3 separate regions of the Homo sapiens genome follow, and all the other regions are linked to region 3. Evidence: fine-mapped QTL for protein levels in blood plasma. Region 3 holds a variant in brackets. A gene starts in each other region. All regions are shown on their reverse strands.

What was found. PIP is the posterior inclusion probability: the model's chance that the variant is causal. The UK Biobank Pharma Proteomics Project read protein levels with antibody pairs (Olink). The fine-mapping took linkage between variants from a reference panel, not from the people measured, so its PIPs are less certain.
Region 1: ATF2 starts here. The variant in region 3 is fine-mapped to the plasma level of the ATF2 protein (UK Biobank, PIP above 0.99).
Region 2: ANXA1 starts here. The variant in region 3 is fine-mapped to the plasma level of the ANXA1 protein (UK Biobank, PIP above 0.99).

Annotation. Positions count from the first base shown.
Region 1 is chr2:175,163,241-175,171,529 of GRCh38, reverse strand. ATF2 (activating transcription factor 2) reads left to right here and starts at 3,327. Exons shown (of 14, transcript NM_001880.4): 1 at 3,327-3,480. MIR933 (microRNA 933) reads left to right here and starts at 3,821; the gene lies at 3,821-3,897. RefSeq lists a silencer at 3,309-3,378.
Region 2 is chr9:73,150,502-73,157,499 of GRCh38, reverse strand. ANXA1 (annexin A1) reads right to left here and starts at 5,635. Exons shown (of 13, transcript NM_000700.3): 1 at 5,576-5,635. RefSeq lists a silencer at 3,353-3,647.
Region 3 is chr14:106,011,724-106,020,012 of GRCh38, reverse strand. It overlaps IGH and IGHV4-4. Among named protein-coding and RNA genes, the nearest start is that of FAM30A, 98 kb to the right of the region's middle. The variant GT/T (reference allele first, on the strand shown) is at 3,588.

The sequences.
Region 1 (8,289 bases), not on the chromosome of region 3:
ATAAGCTAACTGGTATGATGTGAAGATAAACATAGCCCTTTTTCCCCATAATGCCACACCCCATTAATTATAAATTCTTTTGGGAAACCCAAGATTTGGGTTGGAGGGTAGACATCCCTGCACTTAAAATGTCCATGATGAGGACAAGTGCTGAGAGGTAACTTTAACATAGGCCATTTCAGCAATGTGCAGGAAGACCCTGAGCTGGCAGAGAGAGGAAAAGATCTGCCATGAGATAGAAGCTACCAAAATGTCTGTACAACGTCTAGGGCCACATTATCCTATTTCATTTCTCAGATATCAGTGGGGTAATCATGTCCTGCGTCTCCCACCCCTTTCACATCTCACACACACACACACACACCACACACACCCCTACCTTGATCCCACTGATAAAATCCCAGCTAATCCACTGTACTGGGCTGCATCCTGAGAATATCATGAAAATGTAGAGGCTCTTTCCCTAAGCCTAGGATTAGTTGTACCAAGTAGACATAAGGGGTGCCCTGTAGTCTTCTATGTTTTGGTTAGCTGCAGACAAACAGAAACTATGTTCTGAAAATCAATTATTAGTGAGAGAGAGAAGGAGAGGAAGTTGAAAGGGAAGATGGAGAGAGATATGGTTTGGCTGTGTCCCCACCCCAAATCTCATCTTGAAGTGTAGTTCCCATAATCCCCACATGTCATGGGAGGGACCAGGTGGAGATAATTGAATCATTGGGGTGGTTTCCCCATCCTGTTCTCATGATAGTGAGTTAGTTCTCAGAGATCTGATGGTTTTATAATGGGCTTCTCCTTTTGCTGGGCACTCATTCATGTGAAGAAGGACATGTTTGCTTCCCCTTCCGCCATGATTGTGAGTTTCCTGAAGCCTCCCCAGCCATGCTGAACTGTGAATCAATTAAACCTCTTTCCTTTATAAATTACCCAGTCTCGGGTATATCTTTATTAGCAGCGTGAGAACAGATATATATATACACACACACACACACACACACACATATATACACATATATATACATACATACATACACACACACACACACACACGTTTTAGAATTTTTGTGAGCAGTTTTAACAGATTATGGATTAGCAGCCCTATCATACTAAGGTGGAAATACCACATTGTGTGGCATTTGTAAGATTTTGAGGGCACTTAGAGACCATCATTGTTTCTTGTGATATTTATTAACATTTTCATGACAGAAATGCATTTTCTTCAAATAGCCTCATTTTGTATCTAAGGAATATTAGTTTTATTTAGCAGTTATGCTGGGTTCTTAAAGGAGATTCACTAGACCCTCACTAATTCTCTTAGAACTAAGTTGGGTAGATGCATCATGGAACAAGACAGGCAAAGAAGAGGTCTACAAGAAGTTTCCTGCGTTTGTAAAGAGAAGACTGTAAAGAATTTTAGGACTCTTGGGGATATTGAGGAATGCAAAAGTGAGAACAAAGATGGAAAAGGGTGGCATTTTATGAGGATATGAATAAGTAGTGAGACAAGTTCATGGAATCAGACCTGAATATGGTAACTACATTCATTTTGACAATGCTGAATGTTTTCCCCACTTGTAGAAAAACTATAGTAAACAAACTGCTGTGGAACTAGAAATATGTGGATAAAGTGAGACCCTTTGTTAAATGCCGGGCTGCCAAAATGCATATATAACAGATCGGCATAGTTTCCACCTGTTTCCTGCGCCTATCTTATTTTTTTTTCTCACTTTAGGTATACCCTCTCTTTAGAAAATTAGCTAAAACTGAATTATCAAAACAGATCAGAGTACTGTTCATATCACTAAACAGTTCTTCTCTTGTCTAAAAAGAACTGAAAGACTTTCTTTAAAATAATGTGTTTCTCGAATGCATCATGTAGATAACTAACTGCTTGACAACAGACTGGAGAAGTAGCAATGAGAAATTTAAAACCAAAGCTACTGCCCAATTGAATCAACACTGGAAAAAATTTCAAATGGAAAAACAATTTTTTTAAAAAAATCTATTCTAATTGACCCAAACTTCTTTTGAAATGTCGTAACATTTGCAGTTCTTTTTCTCACATTAGTTGTTTTGGGAGATGGAGAGAGAAGCATCTATTTAATCAATGCGTTCTAGACCTAACAATTGTGATGTCAATCAAACATTTTGTCCACCATTTCCATCATGAGTAATCTGAACTGTGAGGTTTTGCTGACATAATTAGTGTTACACTACAATGGCACTACTACATTACTGTTACTATATGGGGACGGTACTTTCATTTTAAGTAGGAAAGTGTTAATAATTTGGCTTAATGTTTCTTAACTAAAATTAGTTTTAAAAGAGGACTGAGTTGGCTTATACACATGTATGCGGTCCAGAGACCTACCTGTTAAAATGTCAATGCCATTACAATTTCACTTTTATGCCAGATATCATTCTTGAACTTCAGGCTCATTAACTCTCATACTATCCCCCAAAACCTTTCAACAATTTTGAGAGTGTATTTTATGTTAATATATAAACTAGTTCATAATTTTGTTCCAGACTAGAAATCAGTATTTAATAAATGGAAAAAATAAGACACTGAAAATCTTTTATTGAATAATGTAAATTCTCACAGAGGCCTCTGATCATACTTTTCAACTTGTGCCTATTTATTGAATAACCAACATCCTTACAGTTAATATTAAAATCTTTAAGTTGTGTGGGGTTTTTTGGAGGGGAGGGATGGGCAATTACCAGCAAACTCCGCCTCCCCCAAACCTCACCTAACCCGAAGCTCCCCGCCTCAGGCTCCCGGGGAGCCAAGGGGTGGGCTGAGGAACGCAGCCTACTTTTACCCACCTCCCTACCTAGTGCTGGGAAGTGACGGAAACGGAGACACCCGGCTCCTGGGGCTGGGCTCGGAGGACCCATCCTGCTTTCCCTCTAGCAGCCTTTCCGGAGCTCACCACCTTTCCTCCCCTCACACCGCCAAAGCCCTGCCTAGCCCTTCACCGCCGCCTGCACCCGCGCCCTCCTCCAGCCGACAGCCAATCACAGTCTTCCACAGCTCCGGGTTTACAGAAGTAACGCTCCTTGGGCCCTCTGGTCCCGCCCCCTCCAGAACTGCTTCCCGCCCTTCGGGCTCCTTGTCCAATCATGAGCGCCCGAGTGCTCTTTGATGCCCGTCCCCTCTACCCGCCCTGCCGAAGACCCGCCTTCTTCTCCTTAAGCCTGACGGAATCACCTGACTCGGAGGCGCTCCCTCAGAAGGAAGGCAAGAAGGGGCGTGTGGGTGAAGGGGAGGGGCGCCAGAAGGAAGGTGGGGATGCCGGGAGCGGGGCGAGCGGGCGGGGGTTGTCAGTCCGATCTCGCGAGAGAGGACGGAAGCCTGTGGGAGCCCGTGGCCTTTAAAGTGCCGTTCAGCCTTTTCCTCCAGGGGTGCTTTGTAAACACGGCTGTGCTCAGGGCTCGCGGGTGACCGAAAGGATCATGAACTAGTGACCTGGAAAGGTGAGTAACGATGGGCAGAGGTCAGCAGGGCTGGAGACTGTAGGGATACGGAGAAAGAAGGCGCTAACATGGCGACGTCGCTCAGCACAGTCCCCACCCCCCGTTTCCCATCACCTCGGGTGCTCCTGACGTGCTCCTTAGCCCTTGGGGCGATTGTGGCTGTGCTGCCACCTCGGCGGCCCGCGCGGTGTGGGCTTTGGGAACCTGACTGGCTGGGCCGGACCGTTAGGTAACCAGCGTTCGTTGTTCCGGCCCCTCCCTCTCGCGCGCTTTCCTAAGGCAGAGGAAAAAGGAATAACGGCTCCCTCTTAGACCCCTCCCTCCGAATTATCTTCACCCTACTTGGGTCAGTTCAGAGGTCCTCGGGGCGCGCGTCGAGTCAGCCGTGTGCGCAGGGAGACCTCTCCCACCCACAGTCCTTGGGTTGGGCGGGGAGAGGGCCCACTCTGGTCTCCCCACCCAGTATTCAAGCGATTGAGGACCGTGTATTGGTGATGGTGGCGGGGAGGAGGATCGGGAGGCGCGGCTGAAAATAGAATCAGGGTCCCTGGCTGCGGTGCAGCTTGAAGGAAAGAATGGTGTGGAGAACCTAGGAGCTGGAAGTCTCGGCCTTTTCCGTCCTTTCCGCCACCCTCACAATCCCGCTACCCCCAGCTTTTTCCCGGTGGGGCGGGGCTTAGGTGTGGGTGCAGACTGATTCTGGTATTTTCCCTTATTTTTTTTTTTTTAAATCTCTGGGTGGACAGCAGAGCGTATGTAAAGAAATAATTTGCTTTTCATCAATGCCCTAGGGACCAGGGCCGAAAGGGAGTGTGTGTACGTGTTTTCTATGTTCGCTCGTTTAACCGAACCTAGGAGGAAAAAGAGAGGAGGAGCTGGGAACTATTTTTGTGCCCCTAGGTAGTATAAAATTGGCTTTCTTTAATGGAGAGTCTTAAAACTGGTGAGGCCAAGAGCAAAACTACTGTGAATATCATGGAGTAAAAGAGATTACTCCTGATGGACCTTAGGCATCAGAAATTTTAGTGAAAGAAATGTTTCTCTTAAAATTCAACACCTATTTTAAATAGTGATGTAAAGCATTTCTTTACATGTACCTTCAGGTTTTCTAATGCTTTCCTGGCTATTATTTAACTGGTACTAAGGGATTGACTAATCCCTAAATTATAATGTGAAAGTTTAAATTTCTTAGAGGTTTTAAATTATGGAGACGGTCACAATGCATGCATTTAAGATATACATTTAAAATCAGAACAAAAACTGACTTTCTTTGAGCACACTTTTTGTCCTATTTGAAGAAACATGACCACTGGCGTTATCATTGTGAGTAACAGCCGTTCTGATCTTTAAATAGCCATATAGCTTTGGTCTCTTGAATCAAAATTATGAAGGTAAAGCTTTATTTATAAAAGCTTGTTAAAAAGTCAAACCTACAGGTTTAAGTGTCTTAAAGTACAAACACAGAAGCAGTTTTATCATGTATTAATTTTTTTTTCCTTACTTGAGGAATCCACCGTAAAAACTTTGTTTCAAAAATGTTAGGAACATCCTTGTAAAATACGTTTTAAATATACAGATTCCCCTCTGCAGATTAAGAAAGTTCATGGATCTTTAAGGCCATCAGTAGTTGCGTAATAGTTAAGAATCCTCGTCTTTGTAAAATAATTTCTAGGAATCTTCCAAATTTACCGTGATGTGTAAAAGAGTTTCTGAGAATCTTCCAAATTTACCATGATGTGTATGTTGCCTTCCTAAGACGTTTAATCTTGCTTTGAGAGAATGCTACTGCCATTAAGTTTTAAGAACTGATTTAAAATGTAATATCGTGGAAATTTAGAACTTAGTTGTTATGTATTTTAATTGTCAGGAAGGAGCTTTCAGGGACTTTTTTTTGTATGTGTAGTGTACATAATACCTTCTATAGCTCCGGGTGCATTTCCTGAAAATCCTTTTTAAAATATCTTATCCGAATGTTTATTTCGTATTTGGGGCACTGTATTTTTATTAGTTAAATATGTAACCCAGGAATTCCTGCACTTTTTTCTTTGGCGTTTTTTGTTTTTAAGCTAAGATAATAGTAGAGGCTGGGCGTGCGCGGTGGCTCATGCCTGTAATGCCAGCACTTCGTGAGGCCGAGTGGGGCGGATCATGAGGTGAGGAGATCGAGACCATCCTAGCTAACACGGTGAAACCCCGTCTCTACTAAAAATACCAAAAATTAGCTGGGTGTGTTGGCTCCTGTAGTCCCACCTACTCGAGAGGCTGAGGCGGAGAATCTGTTGAACCTGGGAGGCGGAGGTTGCAGTGAGCCGAGATGGCGCCACTGCACTCCAACCTGGGCGACACAGCGAGACTCCGTCTCAAATAAATAAATAGTAGAAATGGTTGTCAGCATTTTAACAAATAGTGGGGTTGGGGTGGTCTTTATTGGTATTCAGGATCTGAAAGCTCTATGACTATGGTAGAAAAATATGCCATACATCAAACATCTATCTGTAAGTAGCATTAACTCTTCAAAAAATAATGTACATTTTTTCTACCCAAATTTTTGTATTTTGGAAAACTTCGGTTTTAATGATACATACGTTCTTGTCTGGTAAATTGTTAGATCGTGTTAGATCAGGTAAACAATCTCACCAATGTGTGCTTTTTCTACTAATTTTGTCTAAAGGCTCTTCCTTCCAATATGAAATATACCTATAAGTAGGCATTTCTTTCTCTTTTTTATTCTTACTAAAATGTCATTGGAGAATATAAAGTAGTTGAAGTCTCCCTTATGAAAACCAGATTTTCATCAGAACCTCTCGTTAAAAATTCAGTGAATAGCAATAATTAATATTCAACTGATTTTTATAAAAGTCAATGCATATAGCACCTGTTGGGTTATTTTGTATAATTAAAATGTACCCTAAAAAAAATCCCACCTTAGCCAGGTGTGGTAGCTCACGCCTGTAATCCCAGCACTTTGGGAGGCTGAGGCAGGCGGATCAGCTGAGGTCAGGAGTTCAAGACCAGCCTGGCCAACATGGTGAAACCACGTTGGTAGGCGCCTGCAATCCCAGCTACTGGGGAGGCTGAGGCAGGAGAATCGCTAGCACCTAGGAGCAGGAGGCTGCAGTGAGAGCCGATCGTGCCACTGCACTCTAGCCTGGGCAACAGAATGAGACTGCATCTCAAAACAAAACAAAAACCAAAAAATTCACTTAGTATTGTTATAATCTGGAGTTTAATTTAGTATTTCTGTGTTTATCTCATACTCACACCTGTTCCTCAAGGCTAAGAACTTGTCTAAAATGCTGCATGTTCTCTTTATGTAAGTTTTAATGTTGAAGTAGTAGGATAGTATTCACCTATTTCTATTTGAAGGAAAACCCCAGAGAACATTTTATTTCCTTTGTTATGTTTCTCAAGGTTAAAAGGTTATATAGTAAGGTATAAGATAGTTTCATAGAAAATCAAGGAAATTTGTGGATCTTTAAGGCCATCAGTAATTGTATTTTATCTTATTTTATTTTTGAGACAGAGTCTCCCTCTGGCTTCCACGCTGGAGTGCAGTGGTGCAGTCTTGGCTCACTGCAATCTCCACCTCCCGGATTCAAGCGGTTCTCCTGTCTGAGCCTCCCGAATAACTAGGATTACAGGGGTGCACCACCATTCCCTGCTGATTTTTGTATTTTTAGTAGAGATGGGGTTTCACCATGTTGGCCAGGCTGATCTCGACTTCCTGGCCTCGAGTGATCCACTCGCCTTGGCCTCTCAAAGTGTTGGGATTACAGGCGTGAGCCACTACACTAGGCCTATTTTTACACATTATTTTATAATATAAATATATTTAATGTTACATATTATATAAATATAAATAAATATGTATTCATTATATGTGTCTTTTCAATTTGTTGAGACTTTTTGACAACCTTGAAACTGGTGTATTCATTTTCACTTTTAAGGCATTACAGGCATGAGCCACTGCACCCGGGCCTATTTTTACACATTGTGTTACAGGTGTATTTAATGTTACATATTATATAATTATAAATAAATATGTATTCATTATATATATCTTTTCAATTTATTCTTGTTGGCAACCTTGAAACTAGTGTATTCATTTTCACTTTTCTTTTTTTTTTTTTTGAGACGGAGTTGCTATGTCACCCAGGCTGGAGTGCAGTGCCGCTCTCAGCTCATTGTAACCTCTGCCTCCCAGGTTCAAGTGATTCTCCTGCCTCAGCCTCCTGAGTAGCTGGGATTACAGGTGCCCGCCACCACACCTGGCTAATTTTTGTATTTTTAATAGAAACGGGGTTTCACCATGTTGGCCAGGCTGGTCTCGAACCTGCCTCGGCCTCCCAAAGTGTTGGAATTACAGGCATGAGCCACCACCCAGCATCATTTTTCATTTTTTAAGTATGTTTATTGATTTTTTTTCCTTGGCATTTTGACATTGACAGTAAAGAAGAGATGTAAACAATGTTTTGGGGGCTTTGCCTATTCACCCATATTTGCATTCTGTATCTTAACAAAGATAGTGGTTCTCAGCCACTTTTTTGCCTTTCTACCCAAGGAATACAAAATACTTCCAACAGTAGTAGTGGCTTATTACCACAGAGATTCTCAACAAGACTGGTAGGGAAAGACAGGGAGAAATAATTGTAATTGGCAAAATACCATATGGACTTTGGTTATTTTTGTAATATATAGTATTTTTATCTATAATATTGACCATAAGTTTATAAATATATTCCCTAAATATTCTTTAGTTTGCTAGCAGAACCGAAACCTTTGTCATTCTAATTTTTTTAGCTTTGCTCC
Region 2 (6,998 bases), not on the chromosome of region 3:
GTATTTTTAGTAGAGACAGGTTTTCACCATGTTGGCTAGGCTGATTTTGAACTCATGACCCCAAGTGATCTGCCCGCCTCGGCCTCCCAAAGTGCTGGAATTACAGGTGTGAGCTACCACTCCCAGCCAATGATTACATTTATAAGGTAAAATAACTTGTGCCAATCTGTACAAGTGAATTCAGATTTAAAATTTTAATTGTAAAAAGATATCCAGGTGATATTTCTCCCTGAATAATTTAGTTTCCTTTTCTATTTCTTGATATAAAAGTACTCAGCATTGAAGTAATTGCTATCTTCACATTTCTTCCTATTTGAGCTGTCTAAATAGTAGTCCTACATATTTTCCCACCCAACACAAAAAACCCAGAAAAGAATTATTTTATACTGGATTTTTTTGTTGTAGCAGGAAGCCTAGAGGTGCAATTGTAACATGCATGTTCTTTTGGCAAACTCTATCTTAAAGGAAATTTCTTGAATTGCTATCATGACTTGGCAATATTTTTATTTAATGAGACATATATTTTTAAGATCTTAAGTATATTGAAAATTAATGTGTTCTCTGTTTTGGCCACACACACACAAAATGCCATCACAGATCCTTTTAGTCTGGGGATGTTTTTCAGAGGCCTTGCTCAAGGTCTACACTGATCTGTCTATCTACACCATTCTGTTTCACCCCTCTAGAGACTACTCTCATGAATGTTTGTGAGAGAGGTTGGGAGGACAATCTTGGCAGTTTTAAATTCTTGATATGAAGATAAATGACTCATGAGGCATAAACTGATTCCATAAACTGATTCCTCAACAGCATGTTCAGACAAACTCTTTCCATTTTCACCTGCTAAAAAGTAACTGGAGTTGCAAGTAATAACACTGAATGCATGAAGAAAATAATATCCAAAGCAGAAATCATCCCCACTTAATTCGCATGGGATTGCTCTTATTACTATTCTGTCATCTGTGAGAAGAACCAATACTTTTTCCATTCATTTAAAGCAGCCTGTTTCCTAAATATAATTGATAGACTTAAAATTGCTTCCTGATAAAGTAACAACCCGCAATTTTGCACAAGGTTTTAGTTCCCATTACAGTCTAGTTTCATGCAATTGCGGTTGCCACATGGAGTTTCATATTCCACCTTCTTAATTGGCACACCCAATACTTTAAAAGCAATTCTAGCAGCTTCAGGCACTCAAAATTTCCATTTTCATCATTTCATCCAAGGCTTTGATAAGGAAGAATCATCAAAATGAGTGTTAAAATTCATCACTTGGCAAAGTACTACTCCATCACTTATAAAAACATGTTTTTATTATTTATTTATTTTATTTATTTATTTATTTATTTATATTATTTATTATTATTATTTATTTATTATTATTATTATTATTATTCCATTCTTTTCAATTAGCAAATAAAAACTTCAAAAGAAAGCAAAAGAAAGACTAAAGATATTGTCCAGTCTAATATTAAAGGTGTCTCTGACAACTTCAAAATAAACGTTATAAAAACTTTACTGTACTGTTTTTTTTTTACTTCTAAAAAATACTTGAATAATGTCCATTTAAAAAAAAAGCCAGAGAAAGCCCAGGAAAAGGTATATTAATTACATAACACAAGATAACAAAAATAAGTTGTTTAAGTCACTTATTTGAAAGAGAGAGCATCCCTAGAGGAGACAGCTTTGTGATTTGTATCTTCTAAGTTCCTACATTCTAGCCTGAAGTATTTGGATAGACTAAAAGCATAATCTAGGAAAGAAAAGCAACCAATAGAGAATTTTCTTCAAGAAATCAATTAGAGAAAAACGGAATCTGAATTCAGCCAAATTCACCACCAGCTCTTAGCAAAGATTAAAGACAGGAGCATCAAGGCAGGATATAAGAAATTGCTCTAAAGGAAACAGATTTTATCACATACAGCTGGTTAAGGGCTCAAAGCCAACTGCACGTATTAACTGAACTTCTGAATAATTATAATACAACTAACAAATACCAAATATATATTTTTTTATATATTGGCCAAATTCTATCCTTAAGCCGTTCTGACTCTTCAATACCTACACTCTGCATGAAAACCTGCCTAAGCCAATGAGTTCATGAAAGGTTTTCTTTTTTCTATCTTTTTGTTTGTAGTGTATAAAGCTTGCAATAGATTTTAAAGAGCCTGTTCTATCAACTTATAGATTTCAACTAACTCAATACAGATTTCAACTAACCAAAGATAAGCTCTAAAACTAAGTTTATTTCAGTACTTAGCATGAGCTCATTGACGGTGAAATTGGCCATTTATACATAGGCAAATCTATAAGGAAATTAACAATATTTCACATTTCTTCTAATTAATGGTCTTTTTGTGAACATGCACTGCCTACTAATGTCAGCTTATCTATGATTTGAATGTATAGCTTTCTAAAGCGTAGCAATTTTTTTGCATATTTATGTGTCCTAAGAGAGTCCCCCCGCTTCATTTTTCCATCTCTCAGCCTCATGAAAGGCTACCTCTATCTAGAATTTGTGACAGAGGAAGCTGAGTTTTGTGGTTGATTGTATCTTCCTGGTTACAATCTAGAACTATCAGAGTTTTGCAATGATAGTAACAGCAATGACTAACCCTTGCTTGGAATAATAGCCTTTAATCATTATCCTCAGTTTCTATCTGGGAAAACTGAGTGCTATTTTCAAGCAGTCTTCCTGCTAGTAGTGGCAAGAATGGAGACATAAATCCATCCCTTTTGATTCCAAAGTGTTATATATTTTGGCTGTGCATGGTGGCTCACACCTGCAATCCCAGCAATTTAGGAGGCCAAGGTGGGCAGATTACTTGAGGCCAGGAGTTCAAGACCAGCCTGGCCAGCATGGCGAAACCCCGTCTCTACCAAAAGTACAAAAATCAGCCAGGCATGGTGGTGTGCACCTGTAGTCCCATCTACTCAGAAGGCTGAGGCAGGAGAATCACTTGAACCCAGGAAGAGGCGGAGGCTGCAGTGAGCCGAGATTGTACCACTACACTCCATCCTGGGCGACATAACAAGACTCTGTCGGGAAGAAAGAAAGAAAAAGAAAAGAAAAGAAAAAAGAAAAGAAAGAGAAGGGAGGGAGGGAATTAGTGACCAAAAAGAAAATGACATGATCAGTGTTCTTTTAATCACTCACACCTGAGAATCAAATTCATTAACAGTCAACTTGCGCAGACCGTAGCAGGTTTCACCCCAGCCTTAGGGAGTTTATTTTTAAATGCACGGCCTTGTGCATAGTTTTTCCTCGAATATGTATTTCACAAGTCCTTCCCACACCTTCCCTGGTGAGAGAAAGCAATTAAGACTACACAATGGCATGACTTACAGAAAGCAATTTATGAAAGGTAGCCTCACTAATGTTTTGCTTCCAGGCTTTTCGATAGGGTGTTCTTCTTGCCTGGAATGCTTGTTCCTCCTCCACATTCACTTCCCTTTGCCTAACTAATTGCTACTTCTAAGTGACTCATCAGCATTGATCTCATCACGTTCTTCAGAAACCCTTCATTAGTTCCTCAGCACTGGATTCGGTGACCTTCCATGCTCTCCCAAAGCATCCTGACTTCACCCCTACACCAGCCCCACCTTTCTGTATTATCACTTTCCATTGGCTTGTTTATATTCCCCAGGAGCAGGCCATGAGGCCCGTGCTAACATACAAATAATAATATTCATTATGTATGTACTTCCAATCCCTAGCAAAATGCCTGGAATTTAGGATGTTAATAAGTATTATTGAATGAATATCATGTATCATTGCTAATATTTTAAAAAACATATCTACACTAATTTAATGAACATTTTCTACCCACAACTATAGGATATAAAATACAAATTGAAGTATACTGGTTCTTGATTATCTGGCGATCTGACCTCAAGAAAAACATTTAGCTTCTCCAGAGGGTCTTCGTTTATAAAATAAGAATGTTGAAGTAATTATCATCTAAGATCCATTTACAGCTCTGAAGTGCCAATCTTAAATATTACTTCAAGTAGATGAAGATGAAGAAAATTAGCATAATGAAGGAAGGCATTATATAAATTGGATTGTTCTGAGCTTCCTGATGAAATTCTGTCCAATTTTAAAGGAAAAGGAAATAGTTGACTTCAAAAAACTGTTTATAGTTTATCATTGAAAAATAATAGGTCTGCTGGTTTACCTCTGATTTGAAATGTCGTAAATTAATAGGTCTAGAGAGAGCTAACGTCATATTCAGAAATCAACCTTTGCAGACCTTCTGGTTGAAAAAGTATTTAATAAGCATGAAACTCTGGCTGGTTCCTTAATAATATTATTATTAACTATTTTGTCAACATCTGTTAAATGTTGGCTATGTGCTGGATGTGGTTGAGCCTGGAGCTAGGGTGTTACTGTCACTTTTGGGGAAGAGGCCATTTCAGAATTATGAAACCAACATTTTACCACATTTGAGTCATTTGCAATGTGCATTCTCTTACAGCTACCAAAATACTCCTGTGGAAAGAGGGCAACATTGCTTTCTCAAAGTTTTTACAATCTTTTAGATATAACCAAGGCAAGAAAAATTCCATCCTTGTTAATTAGCTAGCAGTGAACATAAGAAATCAGAACATTTAATAAATATTTAAAATGAACGAACAGAAAAATTCTTGAAGGAACATGTTTAAGAAAAAAATAGCCAGATACATGATTTGTAATCTCACTTTTACAAATATATCCAACACTAGTAAATACTCTTCTTTAGTTTTGCTTTGTGCTTTTCTAAGGAGTTTTATGGCCATTAGCTCATGCAACAATCAAGTGGAATAGCTGTTGGAGGGCCTCACTGACATTCCCCTAGGATAATGTATCTGACACTACCCAGAAAGTATTTCCCTTCTTTTTAGGTTTTCCAGCCAGCACTTGAAAAGACTGTATATGACACAGAGCCTACAAGAAAAGGAATGTGGCCACACCCTCTTTAAATGAAAAAAGTAATAAGCGGACCTTCTTATTTTAAATAGCATAAGCAAATATAACATATATTTTTAAATGTTTATTACAAAGAGCATGATTAGCACTTTGAGGTCTGAATCTATCTTGTTTTCCTTACAAAAGAAGAAAATAAATTATGAAAGTCCTACTATTTTGAAACAGTTCCCTGCAGCCCACTCCTATCACTTTTGTTCTTGCCCCCAAAAAGCAGCCCCCATCACGATTTCTCTGTAAAACACACAGCTCTTGGGAAGAAATATTTCAAGGGGAAGGAAAGGAAAAACACATTCTTTTAAGGCTACCAGAGGGAAAGCACATTCTTCCCTTCTTTCTCATGGTAACTTACCAAGAGTACAATGAGCCAGTATTAAGCAAACTTATCTTATTTTTACTTGTATTTGTTAACTAAGTAGAACAAAAATATTGTAATTTGTGATTCCTAAAATATAAATATCCAATGTAATTCTACAGAAAGATTTATGAATGACTTATCATGTTAAATGCAACTAACCATAAATCCTGTAGAAGCAGTAACATTTAACATAGTGATGAGAAAAGTTTTCAAAACAACCAAAACTAACTAAAAGGAAAACCAAGACTTACCTTTATCTCTACCTTCTTGCAAAGAACTAAAGAGAAATTCTTCTCTGAAGATTTCACACTGGCAGTGGAGACTTGGGCTTCTGATTTTATAGGATTTTAAAGGAAGCCACACCTAGCAACCAGAAGTTAGTAATTGGCTGCCTTCTGTTTGAAGTACATGGCTCAGCTATGTCCAAAAACAAAGTGAAACAAGTCTTGCAAAACTACTCACTAAACCAATTCAACTGGCATTACAAAGGAAAAGAAATGGAAGGGCTGATTTTTCCTCCCTCTTTATTTTGCACTTTTATTTCCAGATGGGATATTTATTTTGCACTTTTATTTTCAGAGTATACATCTGCCCCAATCCTAATACCAGTGATTGGCACACTTTTGTAGTTAAATAGGTTGTAGACTAAAAAGTATGTTACCTTCAAAACTAAACAAACCAACAAACAAAATATTACATTTGAATTCCACCTCCATCACTTATTATTCTGTGACTTTAGGGACATACTTAATTTTTCTGAACCTGTTTTTACTTTTGTTTTGTTGTCTTTTTCCCCCGCTTTTTGTGGAGAATGGGGTCTCGTTATATTGCCCAGGCAGGTCTCAAACTCCTGGGCTCAGGCTATCCTCCTGCCTCTGTCTCCCTAAGAGTTGGAATCACAGGCGTGAGCCACCATGCCTAGCTGTTTTTACTTTTGTATATAGGAGCATTATCTAAGTTGTCTACCCACTAGAATTCTTGTGACAATGGAGAAATAACATATATTTGTAAATTTTAACATTACACAGTGCCGAATAATTTTCTATTTATATTTTTCTTGCCTTAAAAAATAAACGACTTTTGTTCCTAGATATAGCTTGTTGTTATAAATAAGAAATATAGAAGTAATAAAGTTCCAGATTGGCTCAAAATTTTGAACAAAGGTAATGCCAAAAATTTGATCATTATGACATTCAATAAAAGCATTGACATCAGAAGGCCTATCTACATTAATTCTTTTAAATAGAGTCAGTTACATAGAACTATATATATAAACTGTAATATAGATCAGTTATATATACATTTTGATACACATCTTTGACATTGTAGACTAGTTGAACACCAAAACAAGGAACTAGACCTATAAAATGAAAGGATTAATGGAGCAGCAACTATTACAGAACACATTCCATAAGAAATTTCCCACCCAATGGAGGAAAATTGGTTCTGGTAACTTCCATAGTGGTTCATTTTCATTCTTCTTTAAACCCTACAAAGTATTATATGATGTTTCCATTAAAGTGCACAGGTGTAAAATCTCACAGCATTATGGCTCAATTTATGCTGCATTTAGTGGTTTGTTCTTTTTCCTCTTTTCCTCATAGATATTTCACATAAAAAACATGAAGTTTAGGAAGTTAATGAAAATACTTTCTAAAGATTGGCAGTATTTTA
Region 3 (8,289 bases):
ATTCATGTCTGCAAGAAAATACATACAACAATAAAACACATTCAAGTCCAGGGGGAGGCTGACCTCTGCCCTCTATATTACAAGTACAAGGTGGTATCACATCCAAATTATTTTTCAGACTCCAGGGTATAAAGCGCTTTTGGACGGTGAAGCTAACAGCTCTCCCCTCAGGTGTGGCTGAGGTATGTGGAGAATGCAGAGTTGTGTTCATGAAGAAGATTACATTATTGTGTCTGGAGACAGCTCCCCAGGGTGTGTCTCAGATGTCAGACATGCGTCTATAAGTCAAGCAAAGAGAACACATTGAGTCCAAAAATCAGCATATTCTTACAGGCACCCATTGCTCCATCACATGGGTGAGAAATTTTTGAGACAAGTGAAGTGTGAGTTCACAGTAAGTGATGCAGTTATCATATTTCCATGAACTTTCATTAACAAGGCAAGGACTTCTCTAGATCACTCATACACAAATATACAAAATGTATTTTTGCATTTGCGAGTGTCTAGAGAAAAAAGAATCTGTTGAGAAAACTTCTTCAGGTTACAGAGATCTGTTTAAGTTGGAGATCTCACAGGAGTGTGTCTTTGAGTGAATACTGGCCTATTAATTAAATAGGTCAAAATTCCCTCTGTTGGAGTAGCCTTCCGATTATGTAGATTTCTTTATTGCTTCCTGAGTTGTGAAACATAAACCCAAGCATTGACTTACTGGAATTTGACTGCTGTGTTGATAAAATTTCTGATATGGTTTCTTCCAATGATTTAAGAATAGCTTTCCCCTTTCTTTACTCCAGGAAATGAATTTTCACAAGGTCTCAGGACACCATATTTCAGGTGCTTTAGTTAAAGAGACTGACTTCTTGGGGGCAGGCCTCTTTCTTCTAACAATGAGCTCACTTCTTCTGCAAAGCATTCAGTCTGTGGCTCTATTGCCATGAATCATGAAGATTTTACACTCCAATGCACTAAAAATAATGCCTCTTCAATTAAATTTCCATTGGCATTGACATGAATTGGCCACTCTTGGATGTGTGTCCTATGTTATGAGCCCAACATGTCAGCGGACTGAGAATCCTCTGTTAGCTACTTCTGTGTGTAGCACTGAGCAGACTAACAATCCTCAGAGTCATCCATGAAGGGAGTCCTGAGGTTCCTGGGGTTCTTGGAGACATTCAGGTGAGTTGAGAGGAGAAACAGGATTGTGGGCTGCCAGCCATTTCAACAACAATGGGAGTCATTACCATCTAAGTGTAAAGTCTACATCATTCAAAATATCCTCCATGACAGGCTGATAAGAAGAAATCCAACCACACAATGGCTCCATGGCAGCTCTTTAGTATATTTGGGAGTGAGGCTTTTTTAGGGAAGAAATGTCCACTCCAGTGTGTCCCTGATGCTGCTCTCAGCTAATGTAAACAGTGAACTGGAACCAAGATTCTCTGAGATCAATGTGAGGATTAATGCTGCTCCAATGTGTTTAAACAAGCATGTGGCAATTTAGACGAGCCTGGCTGTGTGGTTTGTTATATGTAAATCTGAACTAAATAAACAGAAAGGGCATGTCTGAACTAGTGTGAGGGTGAGAGAGCTCATAGACCCCAAACTCGTTTTTATTTCCTCCTGGAACCTCCAGGTCCTTTGGTACCTCCAGGTACTTTGTCCATGCATCACAGGCCTGAGGGCCCTGGGCAGGAGGTCAGGAAGAGAGGATGACCAGACAGCTGGGGAAACCGGGATGAACAAAGCCAGTTTCCTTCCTGGTGAGGAGGGGCAGGTCGAAGCCTCGTGTCCCTGTAGGGATGAAGCACACTCACCTGCCCACTGCTACCTGCCAATCAGGTGACCTGCAGAGCAGCAGCTCCTGAGTCACTGATGGTGACTTCCTCCTCCTCCAAACCCTCTAGGATCTGTGCTTCTCAGAGTAGGAACCCCAGCAGGTCCCCAAGTTTTCAATGGATTCACCTAGCTAGTGTCTCTCCTCAGCCCCATCCCCAGGCTCCTGCCCTGGTGCTGTGTACAGTGTCACAACAGGAGTGACAGTAACAGCTGGTGCCTGCACTTTCCAGGCCAAGAAGTTTGAAAGAAGCAAGTCACAGGGCCAGCCGGGATATGGGGTAATCACACAAATTTCCTTCTTGGGGGAAGTGCTGGGAAACATCCTTGAGTCCTCCTCAGCTCACATGCGGCTGCTGCTGTTCATCCCAGTGTGGGGGACACATGAGCCCTCCCCATGCCCAGGATGGAGCTGTTTCAATCACAGCAGGATGGGAATGTGTCTTCTCTATGGGGGCTTTTGGAGCACAGCTCTCCTGTTCCTGAGATTTGAGATTTATAAAGACAAGTCCCACAGAGTGGACCTGCACAAATAAGACAGTACAGGATCCTCAGGAGAGACATCCCATAAGAGAAGGGACAGGCAGGTCCCATCACAGACGCTCATCCTCAGAAACCCTGACCAGCTACTCACCTTCACAGGTCCCCAGTTCCTGATCAGTGCCTGTGTCTGCTCCTGAGAAGAGATGAAAATTCAAGACAAATACTTCTCATGATCATAGGCTTAAAAATTCTCAACGTAGGAAATCAAATCCAGTAGTTTATCAAAAAGTTAACACACTGCAATCAAGTAGGCTTCATTCTGCAAATGCAAGGCTGCTTTAACTGCTTTCCACAGTGCTTGGACTAATTCACATTCCATCCAGCACTGTACAAGTGCTTTAACCTGTGCAAAGCAATAAATGTGATGCTCTACTAAACAGAATCAAAAGCAAAAACCATGTGAGTATTCCAGCAGATGCAGGAAAAAAGCTTTCAATAGAATCTAACAACGCTTCATGATAAAAATCCTCAAAATTATAGACATTGAAGGAGCACACCTCAATCTGATGAGCCGTCTATGACAAACCCATGGCCAACATCATACTGAATGGGCAAACACTGGAAGCATTTTCCTTAAGAACAGAAACAAGACAAGGATGCCCGCTCTCACCACTTCTATTCAGCCTAGTACTGGAAGTATTCACCAGATCAGGCAAGAGAAAGAAATAAAAGGCATCCAAATAAAAGAAAAAGAAGAATGCAAACCCTCTGTTTTCACTGATAATATGATTCTATATGTAGAAAATATTGAAGGCTCTGCCAAAAGTCTCCTAGTATTGATACATTCGTTTAGGAATGTTTCAGGATATAAAATCAATGTACGAAAATCACAGTAACCTTTCTAGTCACCAACAACGTTCTGGCTGAGAGTGGAATCAAGAACATGCTCTCCCAATAGCCATCAAGACAGTGGAATACCTAGGAATAGAGTTAAGCCAATGAGATGAAATATCTCTACTAGAAAAACAGCAAAACACATGTGAAAAAAATCAGAGATAAAACAAATAAATGGAAAAATAAACATTCCATGCTTATGAATTTAAACAATAAATAATATATGAAAAAGTTTTAAAATTTGTGATTAATTCTACGTAGCAATGCCATTTTTTTCAACATTTACAGAATATTGTTGCTGGTAATAGCAGTTTAGCATTTGAGTAATGGAAACACCTTACAGAATCACTTTATAACAGTTGCTTCCTGTAGTGGGT[GT/T]GCTTCAGTTACCTGATGAAAACATCGGCATGTCACAGGTCGAAAACATAAAATATGTCTATCAACTGAGAAGGTTGTAGGCTTTTGTCAAGTAATTACTTCAAGTCATTCAGAAAAACAGCAGACAGTAAACGAAACTTGTTCAAATTCCATGGAGAGTCAAAGCTGAAGAAAATCCAACTAAAAGTGTCCAAAGGCCCCCAAGGCTCAGTTCCTCGGCAAGTCCCACCTTCACAGGTTTTCCAGAATTTTGTTTTTAACTGATTTACACTGAGTGAAGTAGATTACCAGGAGTTTTCCATTATTTTAACATAAAATCGGGGGCTAAGTGTTGTTATTTTATAAAGACATCTTTGAATCTCTCAGGAAATTTACCTCCTGAGGGTTCAGATAAGATCCTACTCTAGGTTAAGATTACATGTTTGGCGCAATGAACTGGTACAAATCTTACTTTAGCTTTCATGTTATCTATTTTTCCGCACTGACTTCCACCTTTTTATTAGTCAAGTATATGGGATGGAAGAGTGCTTCTAAGAGGTCCTTAACTTGCCCATTTCAATGGATTTTCAAGAAGACATGAGAAACCACTTCGTTTGCAAAGCATCCCAAAGCCATGTCCTGCTCCAGAAACGTGATCTCATTTCCTGGTCGTTTCTTAACTGACACGCTCTAATCAGTGCATCTGGGCCAATTTGAAATGAGGTGAAGAAATGTGTCCTAAAGTAAAGCTAACATTGTAATAGGAATTCGTGTTTAAAAACATTTAGTTTTATTATTGGGCAGGATCCATCAACATATAACAGTTGAAGTTTCTCAACAGGAGTTTAATAAATATAAGGAATGTACAGAAGTGTTTCCTAATTTAGATAAAATGTAGTGATTACCTAGGCTGTGAGTGAAATCTTGGTAATCTGCTATGTCCATGCCCATCACTCTGTGCACCTCAAACTAATTTTGACCTCAGCAGAAACGAGGTTAATTTTCAAATTAGTAATTTTTTTCCAATTTAATTTATTTAGATGATTATGAATGACTATTTTAGCAGAAAGAGAATCAAGGAAACTTGAACTAAATAACCAGAATTTAAAATGACAAACAATTCAACAAGATGCCAGGATGTGAGTGGCTCCAGGCCCAATTAGTTCAAAACTTTGTGTGCCCAGGTTCTGTATTTTCCTAAAATTGCACATCTCCAGTCCAGCTTCATGCCACAGTCGACTCCCACCGTGTAAGACATGGCGACAGCATTCCCAAAGGTCGTGTGCAATTCTGAAAATGGAATAAGCAAGGTGAGGAGATGATAGTTTATATTCTCCTCTGAGGAGGAAGAATTGCCTCAACAGACCACTTCTCCTGCATCTGTGACTAGAACTATGTCACAGGCACACATGGAGCAAAATCCCTCAAGGGGATAATACGGTAACATTAATCAGGGTGATCATTTTTTTTTTTTTTTTTTTTTTTTTGAGACGGAGTCTCGCTCTGTCGTCCAGGCTGGAGTGCAGTGGCGGGATCTCGGCTCACTGCAAGCTCCGCCTCCCGGGTTCACGCCATTCTCCTGCCTCAGCCTCCCAAGTAGCTGGGACTACAGGCTCCCGCCACTACGCCCGGCTAATTTTTTGTATTTTTAGTAGAGACGGGGTTTCGCCGTTTTAGCCGGGATGGTCTCGATCTCCTGACCTCGTGATCCGCCCGCCTCGGCCTCCCAAAGTGCTGGGATTACAGGCGTGAGCCACCGCGCCCGGCCGATCATTTTTAATACTATAAAATTCATAGATGACACTGCATTCCAGCCTGAGAGACAGAGCAAGACCCTGTCTCTAAGAAAAATAGAACAAATCAATAGATACTGATACCAACATTTTAGATAATGAAATTTTCATAACCTAATTTTAAATACGCTCACATCATTACATAAATCTTCCCGGAAATATTCCTAGTCATGTTGAGTTTCATCAACTTTTCCAGTGTTCAAATCTAGAAATCCAATAGACTCTTGAGGATAAATCAAAATGAGGGCAGTGAAACTGGTATCTGTTCAGCACCTGTTAACTCAGGAGGACTCAATACACCCTGGCACACTGCTGCTTCTCCGAATGGCTCACAAGGATTCCAGCTCTCTCTCCATCCTCCTCAAACATCTGACCGCACTTGCCCTAAGTTCACTCTCTGCTCTTAGTCTGTGCTCTGAAGTCTTCCCAGAGGTGAAAGTGAGCTGTCAGATGGAACTTCCCTCTCACCTCAGCGTGGAATTTACTACTACATTTAACTATCACTCTTTCCATAATGGTTGATTTCTTGGTCTGTTCATTACAGACCAAAGGCATCTGATTTGAATCTTTATTTCTTTGCATTTGTCTCCATGACAATTTTGGGAGGTTTTACCACCAGCACTATGACACGATGTAGTAACATGACACATTTGTGGTTAACAACACCTACAAATTCAGAAGCTCTTCGGTTCTCTTCCCAGCAAATATAGCTGCTTCCTTTCTGTGTATGAACACATCCTGGAAACCCGTACACACCCACATAGATATATACATGGCTATGACATTTTCTTCTCTGTAAGTGAAAATTAACCTCAATTTCATACGAAGTTCATCATTTCCCTGAAGGTGAAGGTAGGTCGTTTTTCATCTATTCTAACAAAAGTCTCAGACACCAGCTGGTAAGTGAGGAGCTACCCTGCTTCTGGATGTTGGATCTGTCTCTTCCCCTTTGCTTTACCACAGAAGATTGGCCACTTGTCCAGGTCCCAAGAAGAGAGTCCAGGTTTGTCCTGATAATATGACTCATCCAACTTCTGATAACTCTACTGTTACACACATTCATGGAGGTAGCCTATTAATTACATAATTCACTAAACAAATACCAAATACCCACATTGCAATACCCCATACCCAAGGGTATGTTCATGCATTCAATGAAGGAAAAGGCTTTTCAGAGACAGATAGATCAGGCTAGATTGGTCAATATATGGGTGAAAACACTGGACTTGAATGTATCTGTTTTCCCCCATGTCACATGTGAGACCTGTCAGACAGGACCAGGGTTCCTTGTGCACTCAGAGGTGAGGGCTCACAGAATTCCTCTCTGGTTTCCAGGAAAGGTAACTGCAGTAATCTTGGTAATGAGAATATCCTCCAGTGCTGACCTATTATAGAGTTTACATATGAAATTTTCACTGCAATTCACAATCTACTCTTTCACACAGAAGTGTACAGAGGTCAGGACACATCCTCAGGGTCACACATTGAGAATGATGAAGATATGTCCCACGAGTTTTTCCTAAGGTCTCAGAAAGAATTCCAGGACTCAAAAGGTCTCAGAGGGCAGCTCCCAGTGCCTTAGTTAAAATGGTGGCTCAGGCCTGTAATCCCAGCATTTTGGGAGGCTAAGGCAAGTGGATCACCTGAGGTCGGGACATTGAGACTAGCTTGGCCAACATGGTGAAACCTTATCTCTACTAAAAATATAAAAATTAGACGGGGGTGGTTGTGCGTGCCTGTACTCCCAGCTACTCGGGAGGCTGAGGCAGGAGAATCACTTGAACCCAGGAGGCGGAGGTTGCGGTGAGCCGAGATCGGGACACTGCACTCTAGCCTGGGCAAAGGAGCAAAAGTTCATCTAAAAAATTTATTTTAATTTAAAAATTTTAAAAAAATGGCCCACTCCCTAGAACAGAGAGATTCCCTCTAAACATGATGGAGGTCCCGAACTATACATTAAGTGAATCCTGGTGTGTCTGAACTCACATGATTATTACGTTAAGCTGCTGTTCCAATCTACTTCCTCACCTGGGAAAAGAGGAGCCAGGGCATGGCTAGTTGAGGCCCCAGGAAGAGAACTGAGTTCTCAAAGGGCAAAGCAAGCATCCTCATCCCAGGGCGAGCCTAAAAGACTGGGGCCTCCCTCATCCCTTTTCACCTCTTTATACAAAGGCACCACCTACATGCAAATCCTCACTTAGGCACCCACAGGAAACCACCACACATTTCCTTAAATTCAGGGTCCAGCTCACATGGGAAATACTTTCTGAGAGTCATGGACCTCCTGCACAAGAACATGAAACACCTGTGGTTCTTCCTCCTCCTGGTGGCAGCTCCCAGATGTGAGTGTCTCAAGGCTGCAGACATGGGGGTATGGGAGGTGCCTCTGATCCCAGGGCTCACTGTGGGTCTCTCTGTTCACAGGGGTCCTGTCTCAGGTGCAGCTGCAGGAGTCGGGCCCAGGACTGGTGAAGCCTTCGGGGACCCTGTCCCTCACCTGCGCTGTCTCTGGTGGCTCCATCAGCAGTAGTAACTGGTGGAGTTGGGTCCGCCAGCCCCCAGGGAAGGGGCTGGAGTGGATTGGGGAAATCTATCATAGTGGGAGCACCAACTACAACCCGTCCCTCAAGAGTCGAGTCACCATATCAGTAGACAAGTCCAAGAACCAGTTCTCCCTGAAGCTGAGCTCTGTGACCGCCGCGGACACGGCCGTGTATTACTGTGCGAGAGACACAGTGAGGGGAGGTGAGTGTGAGCCCAGACACAAACCTCCCTGCAGGGAGGCGGAGGGGACCGGCGCAGGTGCTGCTCAGAGCCAGCAGGGGGCGCGCGGGGCCCACAGAGCAAGAGGCCGGGTCTGGAGCAGGTGCAGGGAGGGCGGGGCTTCCTCATCAGCTCAGTGCTCTCCCTCCTCGCCAGGACCTCAGCT